Homo sapiens: one gene and its partners. The protein of the gene in region 1 purifies or fractionates together with the protein of each later gene. This does not show direct contact. Each region holds a gene or a part of one and is shown in the gene's direction. Other genes may lie near its edges.

Evidence for each region. The genes of interacting proteins can lie anywhere in the genome.
Region 2: the proteins of BPHL (region 1) and SULT2B1 purify together in Homo sapiens (affinity purification with mass spectrometry; one large-scale study listed by BioGRID and IntAct). This does not show direct contact.
Region 3: the proteins of BPHL (region 1) and MACROD1 fractionate together in Homo sapiens (co-fractionation; one large-scale study listed by BioGRID). This does not show direct contact.
Region 4: the proteins of BPHL (region 1) and EVPL purify together in Homo sapiens (affinity purification with mass spectrometry; one large-scale study listed by BioGRID and IntAct). This does not show direct contact.

What each region holds. Positions count from the first base shown.
Region 1 is NC_000006.12:3,138,543-3,143,349, forward strand, and holds part of BPHL (serine hydrolase BPHL isoform 1 precursor), read left to right. Parts: intron 1-1,843; coding exon 1,844-1,967; intron 1,968-4,807. UniProt on the Homo sapiens protein: Specific alpha-amino acid ester serine hydrolase that prefers small, hydrophobic, and aromatic side chains and does not have a stringent requirement for the leaving group other than preferring a primary alcohol.
Region 2 is NC_000019.10:48,585,708-48,590,514, forward strand, and holds part of SULT2B1 (sulfotransferase 2B1), read left to right. Parts: intron 1-1,521; coding exon 1,522-1,730; intron 1,731-4,807. UniProt on the Homo sapiens protein: Sulfotransferase that utilizes 3'-phospho-5'-adenylyl sulfate (PAPS) as sulfonate donor to catalyze the sulfate conjugation. Responsible for the sulfation of cholesterol.
Region 3 is NC_000011.10:64,152,271-64,157,077, reverse strand, and holds part of MACROD1 (ADP-ribose glycohydrolase MACROD1), read left to right. Parts: intron 1-4,684; coding exon 4,685-4,786; intron 4,787-4,807. UniProt on the Homo sapiens protein: Removes ADP-ribose from aspartate and glutamate residues in proteins bearing a single ADP-ribose moiety. Inactive towards proteins bearing poly-ADP-ribose.
Region 4 is NC_000017.11:76,016,964-76,021,770, reverse strand, and holds part of EVPL (envoplakin), read left to right. Parts: coding exon 1-97; intron 98-207; coding exon 208-303; intron 304-2,117; coding exon 2,118-2,243; intron 2,244-2,710; coding exon 2,711-2,857; intron 2,858-3,170; coding exon 3,171-3,325; intron 3,326-3,512; coding exon 3,513-3,610; coding exon of another isoform or gene 3,611-3,676; intron 3,677-3,859; coding exon 3,860-4,032; intron 4,033-4,807. UniProt on the Homo sapiens protein: Component of the cornified envelope of keratinocytes. May link the cornified envelope to desmosomes and intermediate filaments.

The sequences.
Region 1 (4,807 bases):
TCCTGCATGAATCATCTGCCAAAACTTTCACAATGAAAAGGACATTTGGAAATGTTACTCTTCTGGTTTGAGTTGAAAACAGCAAATATATCAAATGTATGCCTTATAATGTTTCTGTTCAGATGCAGCATCCACCCATGGAGACAGGCCCTGGAAATCTCTGCTCTTAAAACAAAAAAATGCCATGAAACGATGTTTGAGACAGTTCTCCATTAAAGAGGGCACATTTGTAAAATGTAAACTTGGATGTTTTGTTGAAGAGAGTAGTGAAAAGACAGGAAGATTTAAAGGTGGAAATAGGGTTAAATCAGCAATTCAAAAATACGTTCATGATACAGAGGCTGTAGCAGTGTATAAACTGTCTCACAGCGAGGGCCTTCGTGATGCGTCCCCCTTCTGTGCTGACTCATTTGGTAGGAGCCCTCTTTTCCGACTGTCCTCTCAGGTTTATGGATGCTTGGTATAGTGTAGGGATTCATTGCATTGCACGGCTCTGGAGTGCGATGGCCCTGAGTGTGAGTTCTGCCTGTGTCCCCGGCTTGCTGTTAGAATGGATCTGGGCAGGTAACTTAGCTTCTTGAAGCTTCGGTTTCCTATCTGTGACCTCGAAAAGCTGTTGTTGTGGGGATTAAATGAGGTATTATCTATTCAGCTTTGGTGCAGGATCAAAGACAGAGTAAGTGTCTAGTGAAAGGTTGGTATTACTGTTATTACAGAAGTCCTTAATGAACAAACATTTTTATATGCTGAATGAGTTAAAACATGTAACTACTGTGTTTAACAGATGTGAAATTGTTTAAACAGTTGCTGGCACCAAGTGAGCACTCAGGCATGTTGACTTTGATCATCACGTGATGATGCAGCTGGCCGGTGTGTGTCATCTCGGGACAGGAGAGGGAAGTGTCAGAGACCTGGAGAAGTATTTCCCTAGTCAGCAGGTCCGCTTCTCACTTAGCAGGCAGTGACTTCCCACTGAAGAGGAGGGAAAGGCCTGGGGCCCGTGCAGGGCGGGGGAGCACTGCCCCGTCGGGGCAGCTCCCAGCCTTCTCAGAGCTGCAGTGCCTTCCTCTTGACACACACGGAGAGGGAATGGAGAAGGAAAGAGCTAGCTTAGGGATGCCAGGAACCGCAGACGCAACTCTCTTTTTAGCCCCACAACAGCCCCGGGGAACTGTGATTGTTCCTGTTTGTGGCTGAAGCTCCCAGTGGTTAAGGAGCCACCACAGCCTCACAGAGGCAGGAAACTGCAGTACAGGGACTAGGGCCCAGGCTGTCCATCATTGCCTCAGGAAAGTTCTCATAAATGGGGGTAAGTCCTTACAGTCTCTCCAAAGTATGTTAGTCAGGAGTGTCACAGATGCATCAGCGATAAGGAGAAGCTGCTTTACCGTGCGCAAGTTGTATAATTAATTCCTTGTGAGGTTCATATGCTTTGAGGGCTGGCCGGGGCCCCTACACTCATCTGAAACGTGATTTCCAGGGAAAAGCTCTACAGGTGTCAAGCACCTACCACTGTTTTCACGGTGGGAACCGCCACTGTGGAATATAGTGGTGGGGTGTTTATTTGATTTTCCTACTATTTTATGCGAATTTAAATCAGGCTGCTTATTTACTAGTAGAACTCAGAAACAGGCAAACAAACAAGAAACAGAGAGAAACAGAAAAGGGAACCCAAAGAATGTTAGAGCTGGAAGGAATCCCAGGCACGGTCAAATCCAAAACACAGTTTTTACGGATAGGGAAACTGAGGGCCAAGGAGGGGCAGGGCTCGCCGAGTTTCGCCTCCTCTGACCGCGTAGAATGGTTGCACTAAAGCAGATTCCTCGTGCTGTGTATCCGTCAGGTAACATCTGCCGGCACCTGCTGCCCCGGGTCCAGTGCCCCGCCTTGATTGTGCACGGTGAGAAGGATCCTCTGGTCCCACGGTTTCATGCCGACTTCATTCATAAGCACGTGAAAGGCTCACGGTAAGTCCTGTCACCGCCTTCACACTCCCCCCGAGAGCCTCGGAGTCAATGGGCAAAGCTACTGGAAGGAAAATAACCAAGAGGAGTTGGAGTTTTAGAGTGCACAGCCCCCCTTTTGCCAATGCCAGTCAGTAGCACCGCTTTATTTAGGGTACCACGGAAGAGAGAAGCCCTGAACTGTGGGTGACTGATAACCAGAAGGAAAGGCATGTTCAGATAGACAGCTCTTACTTTCATGAGTGGCAAACATGCTCATAGGTGCTAAGCCCTGTCACTTGGTAATAGTTTAGATTTATTTCCATCAGTATTAACCGAAACAGTTTCACACAATTTGGGAATTTTCAGTTTAGTTTTTTATCATTATAAAAGCACTGACCACCCAATTTAAAAAAATCTGTTAAACCAAATTTCTGATGTCTGCTGACAGCCAGCCCTACTCAGCACAGTTAATGGTAGTGTTCCCTGTCCCTAAAGCCCCCAGGCCAGCAGGGAAAGCAGGCACAGAAACAGCTCCACTGCTCCCTTCTCGCTCTGTTCTATGATGTATTTAACAACAGATTTCTCAGAGAATTTTTAAAGGAGGAAAAAAAGTTTCTTTTCTATAATAAAATACAATTACCATAAACCTTTATAATTACTATATCCATAATGGATAGTGCTATATCCATTTAGCATTTTTTAAGTTAACAGGCATCTCTTTATTCCACACATTCCTCCTATACCACTTCAACCATGAATCAAAAATACACATGAGCCTGTATAACAAATAATTCATTTGGTAAGAGCATAGAGTCAGTGAAGAGCAAAGGTGGGAGTTAGGCAGGATTATACTGCGGGTGGACAAAGAGGTTTAATGAGGGAGTTGGTTTTTTTTTGGAGTCGGAGTCTCGCACTGTCACCTGGGCTGGAGTGCAGTGGCACGATCTCGGCTAACTGCAACCTCCGCCTCCCAGGTTCAAGCGATTCTCCCACCTCAGTCTCCCAAATAGGTGGGATTACAGGTGTGCGCCACCACGCCCAGCTAATTTTTTGTATTTTCAGTAGAGACGGGTTTCACAATGTTAGCCAGGCTAGTCTCAAACTCCTGACCTCGTGATCCGCCTGCCTTGGCCTCCCAAAGTGCTGGGATTACAGGCATGAGCCACCACTCCCAGCTTGGAGTTTTTAAATTGATTTAGTAGGGGCTGGGCACAGTGGCTCACACCTGTAATTGCAGCACTTTGGGAGGCTGAGGCAGGCGGTTCACTTGAGGCCAGGAGTTCAAGACCAGCCTAGCCAACATGGCGAAACCCCATCTGTACTAAAAATACAAAAATTAGCCGGGCATGGTGGCGGGTGCCTGTAACCCCAGCTACTCAGGAAGCTGAGTCAGGAGAATCGCTTGAACCTGGGAGGCGGAGGTTGCAGTGAGCCAAGATTATGCCACTACACTCCAGCTGGGTGACAGAGTGAGACTCCGTCTCAGAAATAAATAAATAAGTATAAATTTATTTAGTAGCGAATAAAAGGTATTTTCAAACTAGACTTTATAAAATTATAATACTAAGTTATGGTCATGGTACAAAATTCCAGTAGTATACTTTCTTATTAATCCTTGCAAAAGTTTTTTTTGTTTGTTTTTTTTTTGAGGCACAGTTTCACTCTTGTTGCCCAAGCTGAAGTGCAATGGCGCGATCTCGGCTCACTGCAACCTCTGCCTCCTGGGTTCAAGTGATTCTCCTGCCTCAGCCTCCTGAGTAGCTGGGATTACAGGCACCCGCCACCACGCCCAGCTAATTTTTGCATTTTTAGTAGAGACGGGGTTTCACTGTGTTAGCCAGGATGGTCTCGATCTCTTGACCTTGTGATCCACCCACCTTGGCCTCCCAAAGTGCTGGGATTACAGGCATGAACCACCATGCCCGGCCTGCAAAAGTTTTTTATACAATCTCAGTTTTTGTGCTTTTGATTGTATACGTTTGCAGTGTACAAAGTGATATCTCCATATAGCACTTAATATTTTAAAAGGTATTTTATATATAGTATCTAGTTATAGTTTATGACATATTTATGAAAAATATTATCCATTTTACAGATGAGAAATCATGGCTGAGAGATGTTAAGCAATCTTTCAAGGTTGTATAGCTAGTAAATAATTAATCTTAGATTTTTCTCCTAATATGGTGCTTTTCCACCATAGCACAGCTGCCACTTATCTCTTAATATGTATGATGGTAACATGCCTAGAATAAGATACCAGGTGACCTGGTTAATTGTCTTCCAGCTTCAGAAATGACAGGTTTTGCACAGTGACACACATAGTAAATGTGTTATGTGCCCTTAAAGAGCCAGGTTCAATTAAAGTCAGTCTACAAGAAAGTTTAATTTAGGAATTAAAGTTTAATTTAGGCCCATCTCCTAGCAACACAGTACATCAGTATAGGAGAAAAACACCCTTACAGGCTCACACCTGTAATCCCAGCACTTTGGGAGGCCGAGGTGGGCAGATCACTTGAGGTCAGGAGTTCAAGACCAGCCTGGCCATCATGGTGAAACCTCGTCTCTACTAGAAATACAAAAATTAGCCAGACATGGTCGTGGGCACCCGTAATCCCAGCTACTCAAGATGCTGAGGCAGAGAATCACTTGAACCTGGGAGGCAGAGGTTGCAGCGAGCCAAGATCACGCCACTGCACTCCAGCCCGGGCAACAAGAGCCGAAACCCTCTCTGAAAAACAAACAAACAAACAAAAAAACACTTAAAGGCACAGACTATCCCTTCCCAGATTTTTACCAAGAAATACAGATTATGTGTGAAGCAAACACCAAACTGCCTTTCTTGCCTCAGAAGGAGGCTGAAC
Region 2 (4,807 bases), on another chromosome or scaffold:
TTAGGAGATATACCTAATGTTAAATGATGAGTTAATGGGTGCAGCACACCAACATGGCACATGTATACATATGTAACTAACCTGCACGTTGTGCACATGTACCCTAAAACTTAAAGTATAATAAAAAAAGGGGTGACCCTCAAAAGTGGGCAGTGAAAAGTGAAAAGAGCAGAGATTTTTATGTCCAGACACCTGGGTTCAATTCCAGCTTTCTCCATGTATTAAAGGAGTGCCTGCTGGGCATGATGCCTCTGCTCCCAGCACCTTGGGAGGCTGAGGCAGGAGGATTGCTTGAGCCCAGGAGTTCAAGACCAGCCTGGGCAACATAGTGGGACCGTATGTCTTCTAAAAATAAAAATAAGAAATTAGCCAGGTGTGGTTGTGTGCACCTGTGGTCTCAGCTACTCGGGAGGCTGAGGCAGGAGGATCTCTTAAGCCCGGGATTTCAAGGCTGCAGTGAGCTGTGATCACACCACTGCACTCCAGCCTGGGTGACAGAGCAAGATTCTGTCCCCAAAAAAATAAATAAGTAAAGCAATTCTGGCTGTACTAATAGATCAGCCTCAGAATTTCAGCGGCTGAAGCCAAGTTTGTTTCTTTTTCCTATAAACTGTAGTTGGTGCAGGAAGGGTGGAAGGAAGTTGGTGGGGGGATATCCATGCATTCCCAGACATTTGGTTCCTTCCATCTTATGGCTCTGCCATCCCCGGGAGTCCCAGATTCTCCCCTGGAGTCTCTGTATCCAGAAGCAGAGAGGGAGTGGAGAGTCACGTGGCGTGCGTTTATGGGCCAGGCCTGGAAATAGCCGCACATCACATCGCCGCCACCTATACTTCCTTGGCCAGACCCAGTCTCTTGGCCCCACACATAGCAGCAGGGGAGAAGAGAAAAGGTCATCACGCCATATTCCCAGCAGAAAAATGAAATGGGGTTGGGTGGACAGCTCACCAGTCTCTGCCCTGCACCACTTTCCTAGCTTTGTCCCCTTGGACGAGCGACATGGTTTCTGTAAGGCTCAGTTTCTGGCTCCGAAAATGAGGTTAAGCAACCTTGCCTTCTCTGCCAGCTGTAAGGAATCAGTGTGATAAAATAGGTGGTAAATTGCTCAATAAATGCTGTCAGGCAGGGCGTGGTGGCTCACAGCTGTAATCCCAGCAGTTTGGGAGGCCGAGGTGGGCAGAGCACCTGAGGTCAGGAGTTCGAGACCAGCCTGGCCAACATGGGGAGACCTCGTCTCTACTAAAAATACAAAATTAGCCAGGCGTGGTGGTGGGCGCTTGTAATGCTAGCTACTCGGCTGAGGCTGAGGCAGGAGAATTGCTTGAGCCTGGGAGGTGGAGGTTGCAGTGAGCCGAGATCGCGCCATTGCACTCCAGCGTGGGCAACAGAGTAAGACTCTGTCTTAAAAAAAAATAATAAAAGGTGGCAAATTGCTCAATAAGTGCTGTTGTGATTATTCTGATGATATCTCCCTCTTCAGCCCTCCCACACCCAATTAATCTGCTCGATTTCTCCCAACAGGCACGACCTGGATGATCGAGATCATCTGCTTAATCCTGAAGGAAGGGGATCCATCCTGGATCCGCTCCGTGCCCATCTGGGAGCGGGCACCCTGGTGTGAGACCATTGTGGGTGCCTTCAGCCTCCCGGACCAGTACAGCCCCCGCCTCATGAGCTCCCATCTTCCCATCCAGATCTTCACCAAGGCCTTCTTCAGCTCCAAGGCCAAGGTTGGGAGGAGGGGTGTGTGTCAGTTGGGAGGGGCTGCATGGGTGTATGGGGTAATGGGGGGACGGAGCATAACTCATTGATTCATTCAGCACCTATTTGTTAAACACCTACTATGTGCCTGACTCTGATCTAGCACAGTGGTCAATATACACACAGAAATGCCTGCCCTTTGGCAGGGAGTGATGGCTCATGCCTGTAGTCCCAGCACTTTGGGAGGCTGAGGCGGGAGGATCACTTTGGGCCAGGAGTTTGAGACCAGCTTGGGCAACATAGTCAGACCACATCATTACAAGAAATTTTAAAAATCAGTCAGACGTGGTGGCACACACTTGTAGTCCCAGCTACTTGGAATGCTGAGGTGGGAGGATCACTTGAGCCCAGCAGGTCAAGGCTGCACTGAGCTGAAATCACCTTACTGCACTCCATCCTAGGCAACAGGGCAAGACTGTCTCAAAAAAAAAAAAAAAAAAAAAAAAAAAAAAAAAGCCGGTGCTGGCATGGTGGCTCACGCCTGTAATCCCAGCACTTTGGGAGGCAGAGGCAGGCAGATCACTTGAGGCCAGGAGTTCAATACCAGCTTGGCCAACATGGTGAAACCATGTCTCTACTAAAAATACAAAAATTAGTCGGATCTGGTGGTGGGTGCCTGTAATCCCAGCTACTCAGGAGGCTAAGGCAGGAGAATTGCTGGAACCTGGGAGGTGGAGGTTGCAGTGAGCTGAGATGGCACCACTGCACTCCAGCCTGGGAGACAGACCAAGATTTCATCTCAAAAAAAAAAAAAAAAATTACAGCCAGGCGCAGTGGCTCACGTTTGTACTCCCAGCACTTTGGGAAGCCAAGGTGGGCAGATCACCTGAGGTCAGGAGTTTGAGACCATCCTGACCAACATGGAGAAAACCTGTCTCTACTAAAAATACAAAGTTAGCTGGGCGTGGTGGCACATGCCTGTAATCCCAGCTACTTGGGAGGCTGAGGCAGGAGAATCGCTTGAACCCAGGAGGCGGAGGTTGTGGTGAGCCGAGATCGCGCCATTGCACTCCAGCCTGGGCAACAAAAGCAAAACTCCGTCTCAAAAAAAAAACCCCCATATATTATACTACATATTATAATAATTTAATAGTATTACAATATACTTTAATTATATTTAATATTTATATGTTTAACATATAATAACATAATGCAATATAATATAATACATAAAATGTCTGATGGGATAAATTTACATTGGGGGGAGAGGGCTGGAGATAGAGTTAGAGGTGGGTGTGGGGCTGCAATTATAAATAAGGAGGTCAAGGGGGCCCCCAGTGAGTAAAAACCCGGGAGGTGATGGTGGGAGCCACAGAGGTTTCTAGAGGAAGAGCATTTCAGGCAAGAGGGAAAAGCAGGTGCAAAGGCCCTGAGGTGGGTGTATCTGAGGTGCAAGAGGGAGGTCGGTGTGGCCGGAGCCAAGTGAGCAAGTGGGGAAAGGAGTGGAGATGAGGTCCGGGTGGGGAGGCAACAGGGGCCAAAATGTGCAGGGCCGCGTGGGCCCGGTGCGGACTTGAGCTCTGACCGAGTGACGAGGCAGCGCGGCAGGGATCGCAGCAGAGGAGGAGCCCGAGCGGGCTTAGGCTTCACCGGCGCCCTCTGGCGGTCAGATGGGGACCGACTGTCGAGAGAGCAGAAGCCGGGAAGCCCGAGAGGCGGCGCTGGCCGGGGTCCAGGGGAGGGGACGGTGGCTGGACTAGGGTGATGGTCACGGAGGTATTTTGAAGGTGAGACCGGGAGGATTTGCTGACAGACTGGATGTGGGTGTGAGAGAAGGGGATGAGTCAAGGGTGACTCCAAGGTTTCGGCGGAAGCAACTGTCAGGGTGGGGCAACTGGGAAGGGGAGGAGGGAGGGGAGCAGGCGGGGGAGGAAGACACGGGCTCTGCGGCGGCCCATCCCACGTCCAGCAGAGGCTGCCGGTGGGCACAGAAATGCACCCATCGGGATCTGAGGGGAGAGACTTGGGCTGACACGTCCATTTGCAATTCCTTGGCACATATATTCTGTAATTAATCGAAGCTCCAGGACTGGGTGATATCGCCAAGGAATTGAGCGTGGACAGAGCAGAGAGGGGGGGCTGCAATCAGGAAGTCCCCAAGACCACCCTCAGGCTCAACGACTTAGCAAAACTCATAGTGTTCAGCAAAGCTGCTGGACTCCCGGGTTATAGTCAATTACAATGAAAGCAAACGTGAAAATCAGGCAAGGGGGCCGGGCGCGGTGGCTCACGCCTGAAATCCCAGCACTTTCAGAGGCCAAGGTGAGCAGTTGATTGAGCCCAGGAGTTCAAGACCAGCTGGGCAACTTAGAAACACCCATCTCTACAAAAAAGTTTAAAAATTCGTCACGTGTAGTGGCATACACCTGTAGTCCCAGCTACTTGGGAGGCTGAGGTAGGAAGATCACTTGAGCCTGGGAGTTTCAGGCTGCAGTGAGCCATGATTGTGCCACAGGCACTCCAGCCTCAAGGACAGAACAAGACCTTGTTTCTTTTCTTTTTTCTTTTTCTTTCTTTTTTCTTTTTTTGAGACAGAGTTTCCCTCTTGTTGCCCAGGCTGGAGTGCAATGGCACGATCTTGGCTCACTGCAACCTCTGCCCCTCTGCCTCCAGGGTTCAAGCGATTCTCTTGCCTCAGCCTCCCAAATAGCTGGGATTACAGGCGCCCACCACCATGCCCAGCTAATTTTTTGTATTTTCAGTAGAGACGGGGTTTCACCATGTTGACCAGGCTGGTCTCGAACACCTGACCTCAGGTGATCCACCCGCCTTAGCCTCCCAAAGTGTTGGGATTACAGGTGTGAGCCACAGTGCCTGGCCGACAAGACCTTGTTTCTAAAAAATAAGACTAGGCTGGGCATGGTGGCTCATGCCTGTAATCCCAGCACTTGGGGAGGCCGAAGCAGATGGATCACTTGAGGCCGGGAGTTTGAGACCAGCCTGGCCAACATGGTGAAAACCCGTCTCTACTAAAAATACAAAAATTAGCCAGGCATGGTGGCACCCACCTGTAGTCCCAGCTACTCGGGAGGCTGAGGCAGGAGAA
Region 3 (4,807 bases), on another chromosome or scaffold:
GGCATGTTCCTGGCTTAAGGCCCCTGTTTCTCCTCCAGGGGGAACAAAGAGGGGCCTGGCGGGCGAGGATTGCCGATAAGAGGACATGGAGGTGAGATGCTGAATGGGCGCAGTTGGCCTTTTCTTTCCCCATAAATCAGAAACCAGTGCAGTGTGTAGCTCTTTGGGGATCAGCCAGGCCACAGCCTTGTTCTGGTGGTGAGGACAGACATGCTGTCTGGCCTGCTGGCCTTCTGAGGCATGCACTTGGGTCCATAGACTAGAAGGGACGGGCTGACAGATGTCCTCAAGGTCGGCGCCCAGCCAGCTGGTGGCAGAGCCAGCATGCTGTCTCTGGGAAGTGGAGCAATCCTGTGGGCTTTGCTGGAGAGAAGGGGCTTTGTGGGCTGTGGATCACTCAGACCAGGCTACCATGCTTAGGGAGGGCAGTGTGGGAGCAAGTTCAGGTTCCTCTCGCTTATGTGTGACTGGGGGCAGGTCACTCTGCCTCCTCTCTAGAACAAGGTGGTGGCATCTGCCAGATGATATCTGCTAGGGCACCTGAGGTGTCTCTGGTCACGCTGGTCTAGTTCCATGGGATTCCCAGGGCCTGCCCAGCCAGAGACACTTCAGCAAGGCCTCTGGGGTCCGTCCGGGTCCCAGCCCACCAGTCCCGCCAGCATCACGGTGGGTACCTGACTTTCTGGCCACAGGTCCAGCCGTCTGGGAGTGCCCACACAGTGGCATGCCAAGGCCTCGCAGTGGGGAGGTCACAGTTGTGCAAGGTGACAAATATGGGGATTCAAATTATTTATTTAGAGACAAGGTCTCGCTCTGTTGGGCAGTCTGGAGTGCAGTGGCACAATCACAGCTCACTGAAGCCTTGACCTCCCAGGCTGAAGCGATCCTCCTGCCTCAGCCTCACAGGCAGTTGGGACTACAGGCACATGTCCACCACGCTCAGCTGATTTTTTTTTTTTTTTTTTTTTTGAGATGGAGTTTTGCTCTTGTTGCCCAGGCTGGAGTGCAATGGTGTGATCTCAGCTCACCGCAACCTCCGCCTCCCAGGTTCAAGCGATTCTCCTGCCTCAGCCTCCCGAGTAGCTGGGATTACAGGCATGTACCACCACACCCGGCTAATTTTGTATTTTTAGTAGAGATGGGGTTTCACCATGTTGGCCAGGCTGATCTCAAACTCCTGATGTCAGGTGATCCACCTGTCTCGGCCTCCCAAAATGCTGGGATTACAGGTGTGAGCCACCATGCCCGGCCGCTCAGCTGATTTTTTGTATTTTTTGGTAGAGATGGGGTTGCTCCATATTGTCCAGGCTGGTCTCGAACTCCTGGGCTCAGGTGATTGGCTTGCCTTGGTCTCCCCAAGTGCTGGGGACCCAAATAATTAGAAAAGTTCCTCCGGCTGCTGTGTCCCCAAGTTGGAAAAAAAAGTTCTCCACAATTTTGTCCTGTTTGCTTTGTTCTCTTTGGGCATTATTTAGCCGCCAGGAAGGAGTGAGTGTGTCTGGCGTGTAGACCGCACTTTGCAGCACACAGCCACCTTCTCCTTTGACCCTCCCAGCAAGCCTGGGTGTTAGCAAGGGAAGGCCTGCCTTGTCCCTATTCCAGAGATGGGAAAACCCAAGGCTTCAAACTGAGCATGGTGTTGGGAGGTCACGAACCCAAACCTGGCGGGACCTATAACAGAAGAAAAGGCGCAGCCTGGGTCTAGGCCGGCTGCCACCAGCATCTGTCCGTCCTCAGACAGGGAGGCAGACCTGGAGAGACCGACTGGCCTCACTTTCTCCACCCAAATGCTCTCTCTCTTTTTTTTCTTTTTTAATTAGGGGATCATCTCTGGCTCCCTCTTACCTCTGGGCTTTTGCACATACTGTTCCCTCTGCCTAGAAGACTCTGTACTTAGCAAACTCGCCCTCAACCTTTGGTCTTGGCTCATTTATTCCTCAGCGTGCCCCTCAGGCACCCTCAGGTGCCCACACACCGTGCCAGGTGGTGGGAATCTGATGGCAAACACAGCAGATCCCCTATGGAACCTACAGGTCAAGATGGCCAAGATCAAGAAAGGGGGCCGGCGCCGTGGCTCACGCCTGTAATTCCAGCACTTCGGGAGGCTGACATGGGTGGATTGCTTGAGGTCAGGAGTTCAAGTCCAGCCTGGCCAACATGGTGAAACCCCATCTCTATTAAAATACAAAAATTAGTTGGGTGTGCTGGCACACGCGTGTAATCCCAGCTACTAGGGAGGCTGAGGCAGGAGAATTGCTTGAATCCAGGAGTGCAGGTTGCAGTGAGCCAAGATCGTGCCACTGCACTCCAGCCTGGGCGACAGAGTGAGACTCCGTCTCAAAAAAAAATAAAAGAATAAGTGTAAACAAAAGCAAACTATCCCATATCCTGCAGAGCACAGCAGGTACAAAGGGCCTGGGGCAGGAAGCAGCCTGGCTGTTTGGGGAACTGGTGTAGTGGGGGAGGCAGCATTGGGAGTGAGGTGGGAGAGAGGCCAGAGGACCGGCGTTTGAATGCAGTTTTGAACAGAGGAGGGATGGCACCTGATTTATGTTCCCAGGATCCATGGCTGCCGGTCAAGGAACAGATGGGGATGAGATGCACACGGAGATCAGCTGGGAGTTGGGAGCGTCTGTGGGATCTAGGGAGCCATGAGGAAGGCTCAGTCCTGGAGGGTGAGAGGAAGGCTTGGTTTCTAGGGTGTCACGGGGATCAATCCAAAAGAGGATGGAAAGGGAGGGACCCCTGGTGCAGGGTCTCGAGTAAAAAAGAGGGAAGAATGGAGCAACAAAAAAATGACGTTTTGGGGGAAAGAGTCAAACGTTCTGTTTTGCATGCCTGGGCTTTGGGGAATGAGAGCAGGCAGGCACTGTGGGGGTCAGAGGCTCAGAAGAGAGTGGAGGGACAGCCCCGGAGGTTGCTTGCTTAAAGAGCGTTTTGAATCTGTGCAACTGATTAGAAGACCTAGGGAGGAAAGCAGCAAGGACACTTCCTGTCCACAGGGAAGGCAGGAGGGGCCGCTGCATGGGGTGTGGTGACCTTGACCTTGTTGGAAGGAGGGACCAGACTGGGTGGACTGAAGGGAGCATGGGAGGGAAGAAGTGGAGACAGCAGAGGAGGGGGCAGCTGCAGGGGCGTGGAATGCGGGCGTTGAGGGAGGGGACGGGATTATTTGAGGGCAGGCAGGACAGCCTGGTGGAGGGGGACCTGCAGCAGTGAGTCCTCTGGGAGGTGGGCTTGGCAGGTGGCAGCGCTGGTACTGAATGCAGGACCTACTCGTGCCCAAACATGTTTATGGAAGAGGGGGCAGAAGTGGCTGCCAGGAAAGGTGGCTCTGGCTTGAGCAGCAGTGGGGGCTGACCAGGGGTGGGCCTAGCCTTTTGTGATGACCCCACCTTTGCATCCAGCAGGGACTCTGGACTGGGCCCCTTGCATGAGTTCTGTCATCTAATGCTCTCAGCATCCTTGGGTTGTTATCACCCCTGCCAGCAGTGGTTAGATGAGGAGATGGAGGCCTGGATGATGAAGTGACTCTGGCCGGGAAAACACCCTGCTGTGTGAGGGTGGCCTCCCAACCTCCCTGAACATTTGTGGAGGGACCTACCTGTCCCCCTCACTGCCATGTGCATAGAAGCTTCCAGGCTGCAGTCCTTCCTTTCTCACCACCTCCTCTAATTGCTCTCCCGCCTCTACATATTTTTTGATGCTTTTTGAGTTTCTCAATTGTAGCCTTTGCTGTTTGCCGTGGGGGCTGCCCCATCCCGGGAGCCTGTGGTCCAGGGTGCCAGGCTGGGCTGAGCGCCTGGGTGTGCAGGCGGCCTCGGGCCAGCAGGGGGAGCCCGTGAGCTGCTAGCCTGGCCTGGCGCGGTCGGGGCGGGCCCTTCTGAGACGGGTTCCAGGTTTCTGTGCCTGGTGCCACCCCCAAGGGAAGGCGGAGCCCATGGGACAGTGCTCAGGCAAGGGGAGCCGGCCAGGGTGGACCCCGAGTCTGTGAGCGGGTGGGGGGTGCCTGGCTCCTCACTCAAGTCCCTGCTGTGTGAGGGTGGCCTCCCAACCTCCCTGAGCCCCGGTTTCCTCATCTGTAAAACGAGAACGATTCCAACCCCATTGGTCATGCTGGGAGCCCTCAGCCGCTGCCGGGGGGGATGTTGGGGACAGGTGCCAGGTCCACTTGGTCCTGCAGCTCCTGGAGGAGGACAGCTGTCCCGCTGCCTGCATGCAGTGACAGTGAGGGCAGAACTGACTGGCGGTGGGACTGATGGATAATGTCGCTGGCTGAGTGCTGCCAACCGGCTTGGCCTTAGTGTGTGGGAGGAAGCTCGGAGCTGTTCTGCAGGGGACGTCTTCACCCCCGTTCTAATCAGGGAGAAACGGGGGACCCAGAGAGATGTGGACGCTGCTGGAAAGTGGCAGAGCTGAATTCATCACAACCCAGGTCTGCGATGCCTGAGCCAGTCCCTCAGCCTCCCCAGACCTCAGTTTCCCTCCCTGAACAAAGAGAGCAGGACAAGATATTCTAGGGGCCTCTGAGGTTTCCCCAGCATGCCTGCCCTGTGTGCCCAGAGAAGGAGGGACAGGAAGAGCTGGTTTGCATTCTTGGATGAGGCAAGAAAGGAGATGTGGGGGTGCAAGCCCCAGGCCCGTTCCTCTGCCCCCACCCTGATCCTCCTTCCTGCCTCTGCAGCCTTTCTGAAGGGCCTGAGTGACAAGCAGCGGGAGGAACATTACTTCTGCAAGGACTTTGTCAGGCTGAAGAAGATCCCGACATGGAAGGAGATGGCGAAAGGTAGGCCCTGCTCGGGGGAGG
Region 4 (4,807 bases), on another chromosome or scaffold:
GCACGAGCTGCTGAGCCAGGAGCAGAGCGTGAACCAGCTGGAGGACGACGGCGAGCGCATGGTGGAGCTGCGGCACCCCGCGGTGGGGCCCATCCAGGTGCGCTGGGGCAGGGCGAGAGTGAGAAGGGACGTGGTGGGCGGGGAAGGGGGGAGGTGGGGCGGACGTGGGGGGGGCGTGGTCCGAGGGCTCCATGCTGCCGTACCCAGGCCCACCAGGAGGCCCTGAAGATGGAGTGGCAGAACTTCCTGAACCTGTGTATCTGCCAGGAGACCCAGCTGCAGCACGTGGAGGACTACCGCCGGGTGAGCCCTCGGGCAGGCGGCAGGGGCGGCAGGGGCGGCAGGGGCGGCAGGGGCGGGAGCACAGCACCCCTGCCCACAGGAGAGGCACTGCACCTCCCAACTAGACAGAGCTGGCAGGGCGCGGTGGCTCACACCTGTAATCCCAGCACTTTGGGAGGCCGAGGCTGGTGGATCACTTGAGGTCAGGAGTTCGAGATCAGCCTGGCCAACATGGTGAAACCCTGTCTCTACTAAAAATACCAAAATTAGCCAGATGTGGTGGCACGCGCCTGTAATCCGAGCTACTCAGGAGGCTGAGGCAGGAGAATCGCTTGAACCCAGGAGGCGGAGGTTGCAGTGGGCCGAGATTGGTCCACTGCACTCCAGCCTGGGTGACAGAGAGAGACTCCACCTCAAAAATAAAATAAAATAGAGCTGTGTGGTTGCCACTCGGTCCCAGAGGGAAAGAAAGGCATGGGCACATTCTCAACAGGGTGAAGCGGTTCCCAGGGGGGTGAAAATTGGTTCTTACTGGCAGAAAAATATCTTAACTCTTTTTATGCATGAAGTCCAGATCCACATACAGCACCTAAGCTGTATACAGCATATCTGTGGTATTAAAATTTCGTGGGGGCCAGGTGTGGTGGCTCACATCTGTAATTCCAGCACTTTGGGAAGCCGAGCCAGGAGAATTGCTTGACACCAGTAGTTCCAGACCAGCCTGGGCAACATAGCAAGACCCTGTCTCTATACAAATAGATACATCTCTATCAAAATAAATAAATAAATAAAATTTTATGGGGATGAGGTGGGGGGAAATTAAATAAAATATTTCTTAAAAGGCTCTTTAGGAGAATAATAATGAAAAAAAAAACGGTTGAGAAACCCTGATATAATATGCAACTGGGATTTGGGGGCAGATAATGTTTCATACATTTTCCTATAGAACCACAAGACTGTGATCACACACGTTGACAAAAATTCCGTCAAAGCACCTGGAATGCTTCTTTAAAGCACAGCTTCTTCTCCGGGGCTGGGACAAGTGCAGCTCCAATACCCTCTGTCCCAGCAAGAAAGACTTCAGGTGCTGGAGGGAGGCAGGTGACGGTGCCCTTCATTTGTGCAGGAAGGACGAAGACCAAGTGTTTTATGACCCACTTAAAAAAATTAAGTTCAGTGCACAAATAAGACCCCATTTGCAAGAGCACACCAGTGATAAAAGGTCCTGCCGCCTGGGTAGGAAAAAGAAAGACCGACCAGAGTAGGGGAGAGTGACAGTTTAGGTTTAGCTGGTTTAAGTTTAGCTGGTTTAGGTTTATCTGGTTTAAGTTTATCTGGTTTGTGTTTAGCTGGTTTAGGTTTATCTGGTTTAAGTTTATCTGGTTTGTGTTTAGCTGGTTTAGGTTTAGCTGGTTTAGGTTTATCTGGTTTAAGTTTATCTGGTTTGTGTTTAGCTGGTTTAGGTTTAGCTGGTTTAGGTTTATCTGGTTTGTGTTTGGCTGGTTTAGGTTTAGCTGGTTTCGGTTTAGGTGGTTTGTGTTTAGCTGGTTTAGATTTAGCTGGTTTAAGTTTAGCTGGTTTAGGTTTACCTGGCTTAGGTTTTTCTGGTTTAGGTTTAGCTGATTTGTGTTTAGTTGGTTTAGGTTTAGCTGGCTTAGCGGTTACTGGTTTAGTTTAGCTGTTTCACATTTATCTGGTTTGTGTTTAGCTGGTTTGTGTTTAGCTGGTTTAGGTTTAGCTGCTTTGTGTTTAGCTGGCTTAGGTTCAGCTGGTTTGTAGGGTCAGTGGGCAGCAGGTTGCACGAGGCTCTGCCCTTGACCACCCAGTGAACTCAGTTCCAGGAAGAGGCCGACTCAGTCAGCCAGACCCTGGCGAAGCTCAACTCCAACTTGGATGCCAAGTACAGCCCTGCACCTGGGGGCCCCCCTGGCGCCCCCACAGAGCTGCTGCAACAGCTGGAGGTGAGACAACCCCACCAGGCCGTCTGCACCCCACTTCTGGGAATTGGTCCTGTCCATTTTTCTGGGCCTCACCCCTTCTGCCTTGGTACCTAGTCCTATCCCAAGCCCTGGCCTGGGTGCTGGCAGGGGGGTTTACTCTAGCAGGAGGCTGGCCAGGTACCAGCAAGCTCCTCCCACTTCTGGACGTCAGTTTCCTCATTTGCAGTGGGACAAGGGCAGCCTGGGAGAGCTCTGAGGCCTGTCTAGCTTCTGCTTGGTGGCCTGGGTGATGCTGTGCCATCCCCCTCCCTGCAACTAGCAGATCCCAGGATCCTAGGTCCCCCAGAGAGGGGCTCCTTTTACTTTGCTGACTTAGAGACCCCTGCCTTCATGAAGGCCAGCCTCTAGGCCTTTTGAAGGACAGGTATGGTGTGGCCAGCCTCCAATGCAGCCTGGCCTGAGTCCCCCACTGCCTGGGCCCCCGGCAGGCAGAGGAAAAACGGCTGGCCGTCACCGAGAGGGCCACTGGGGACCTGCAGCGGCGAAGCCGGGATGTGGCCCCTCTGCCACAGCGAAGAAACCCCCCTCAGCAGCCCCTGCACGTGGACAGCATCTGCGACTGGGACTCAGGAGAAGTGCGAACTCCCCCACCTCACCCCTGCCACCATCCAGCCCCGCCCAACCCATCCCCTGCCCCTGCCCAAGCCCATCCCTGCTCCATCCCCAGCTGTCTCCTGCGCCCACTTTTGCCCTACTCCTTCCCTTGACTCAGACCCTCCTCTCTCCAAGTCCTGTCCTGCCTCTTTTCTACCCCAGCACCTCCCACCCTACTCTTGTCCCTGTTCCAGCTGCTGTCCCCATTTGTCTCTGTCCCCAGCCCCTACTCTGCCCTGGCCTTGGCCCCCTGCCCCTGAGCCCTCAGGAGCTGCTCCCTTTCTGTGCCCCCAGGTGCAGCTGCTGCAGGGTGAGCGGTATAAGCTGGTAGATAACACTGACCCGCACGCCTGGGTCGTGCAGGGCCCTGGCGGGGAGACCAAGCGTGCTCCCGCCGCCTGCTTCTGCATCCCAGCACCAGACCCTGATGCTGTGGCCAGGGCCTCCCGGTAGGTCTGTGTAGGGATACTCAGGGGCAGGCTGTGGGCAGAGCAGGCCGGCCCTGCGGTGTCCAAGCCCATGGCCCAACAGACCCCTGCTCAAAGGCTGGCCTTCACCTGAAGCTGCGTCTACTGGGGCTGGGGAGGGAGAGAGGCAGAGTGGGGACCTCTTTCTTCAATCTCCTCTTCATTCTAGGCTGGCCTCAGAGCTGCAGGCCCTGAAGCAGAAATTGGCCACAGTCCAGAGCCGCCTGAAGGCCAGTGCTGTGGAGTCTCTTCGGCCCAGCCAGCAGGGTACCCAGGGTGGCCCGGGGAGAGGTGGCTGTGGGGCTAGAAGGAGTAGATTCCGACTTCCGACTGGTCTGTGATGGGCAGGGGTCGCCTTGGGTTAGGGACCATCACTCTGGGGATTTCATCTCTGGGGTGGCCCTGCCCATCCCCTCCACCCTACCCCGACAGGACCCTCTGTGGGCACCTGGTGGGGGCACCTATCTGGCAGTCTGGAGATAGGCCCTGGGCCCTCACCAGCACCTCTGCCCCCAGCTCCATCTGGCTCAGACCTGGCCAACCCACAGGCCCAGAAGCTCCTGACACAGATGACCCGGCTGGATGGAGACCTGGGACAGATAGAGAGGCAGGTGCTGGCCTGGGCGCGGGCCCCGCTGAGCCGCCCCACACCCTTGGAGGACTTGGAGGGCCGCATCCACAGCCATGAGGTGGGTGAGCAGCGGGAAGGGGCGGCTGGGATGAGAAGCGGCCCGGCCCTGGTGCTCACACTTGAGGGAGGTGAGGCAAGTGCAGGAGCGGTGGCTGGGATGGAGATGGAGAAGGGTGTGGACAGACCCGGGCTCAGACAAGCTGGTTCCCCTCCTGGCTCCTCCACTGACCAGCTCCAGGATCTTGGACTACATAACTCTCTGGGCCTTGGTTTCCTCATCCCTGAAGCAGATGTAATAATGCCCAGCTCGCCTGATCATTCAGGAAGGTTCCAGTAGGGCCCAATGTCAACACCCCAGGAGGTATTCTGGTGAAGCTCCTGAAATAGCAAGGAAGCCTGGAGAATCTTAGGAAGAGATGTCCCCTGGCTGCAAGGGGGAGCCTACCTGGGGAGGTTGCAGCATTGTGTAAACTCCTTACCCAAGAACAGCACGTGGACTCAACACTCCCAAAAGTGCTCAGAGTGAAACCCACACCGGGCCGCAGTCTGGGTTATCCTTCCAAACCAGTTTCTTTTCTTTTCTTGAGACAAAGTCTCTCTGCATCACCCAGGCTGGAGTGCAGTGGCACGATCTTGGCTCACTGCAACTTCTGCCTCCCAGGTTCAAGCAATTCTCCTGCCTCAACCTCCGGAGTAGCTGGGATTACAGGCACACACCACCATGCCCAACTAATTTTTGTATTTTTAGTAGAGATGGGGTTTCACCATGTTGGCCAGGCTGATGTCGAACTCCTGACCTTAAGTGATCCACCCATCTCGGCCTCCCAGAGTGC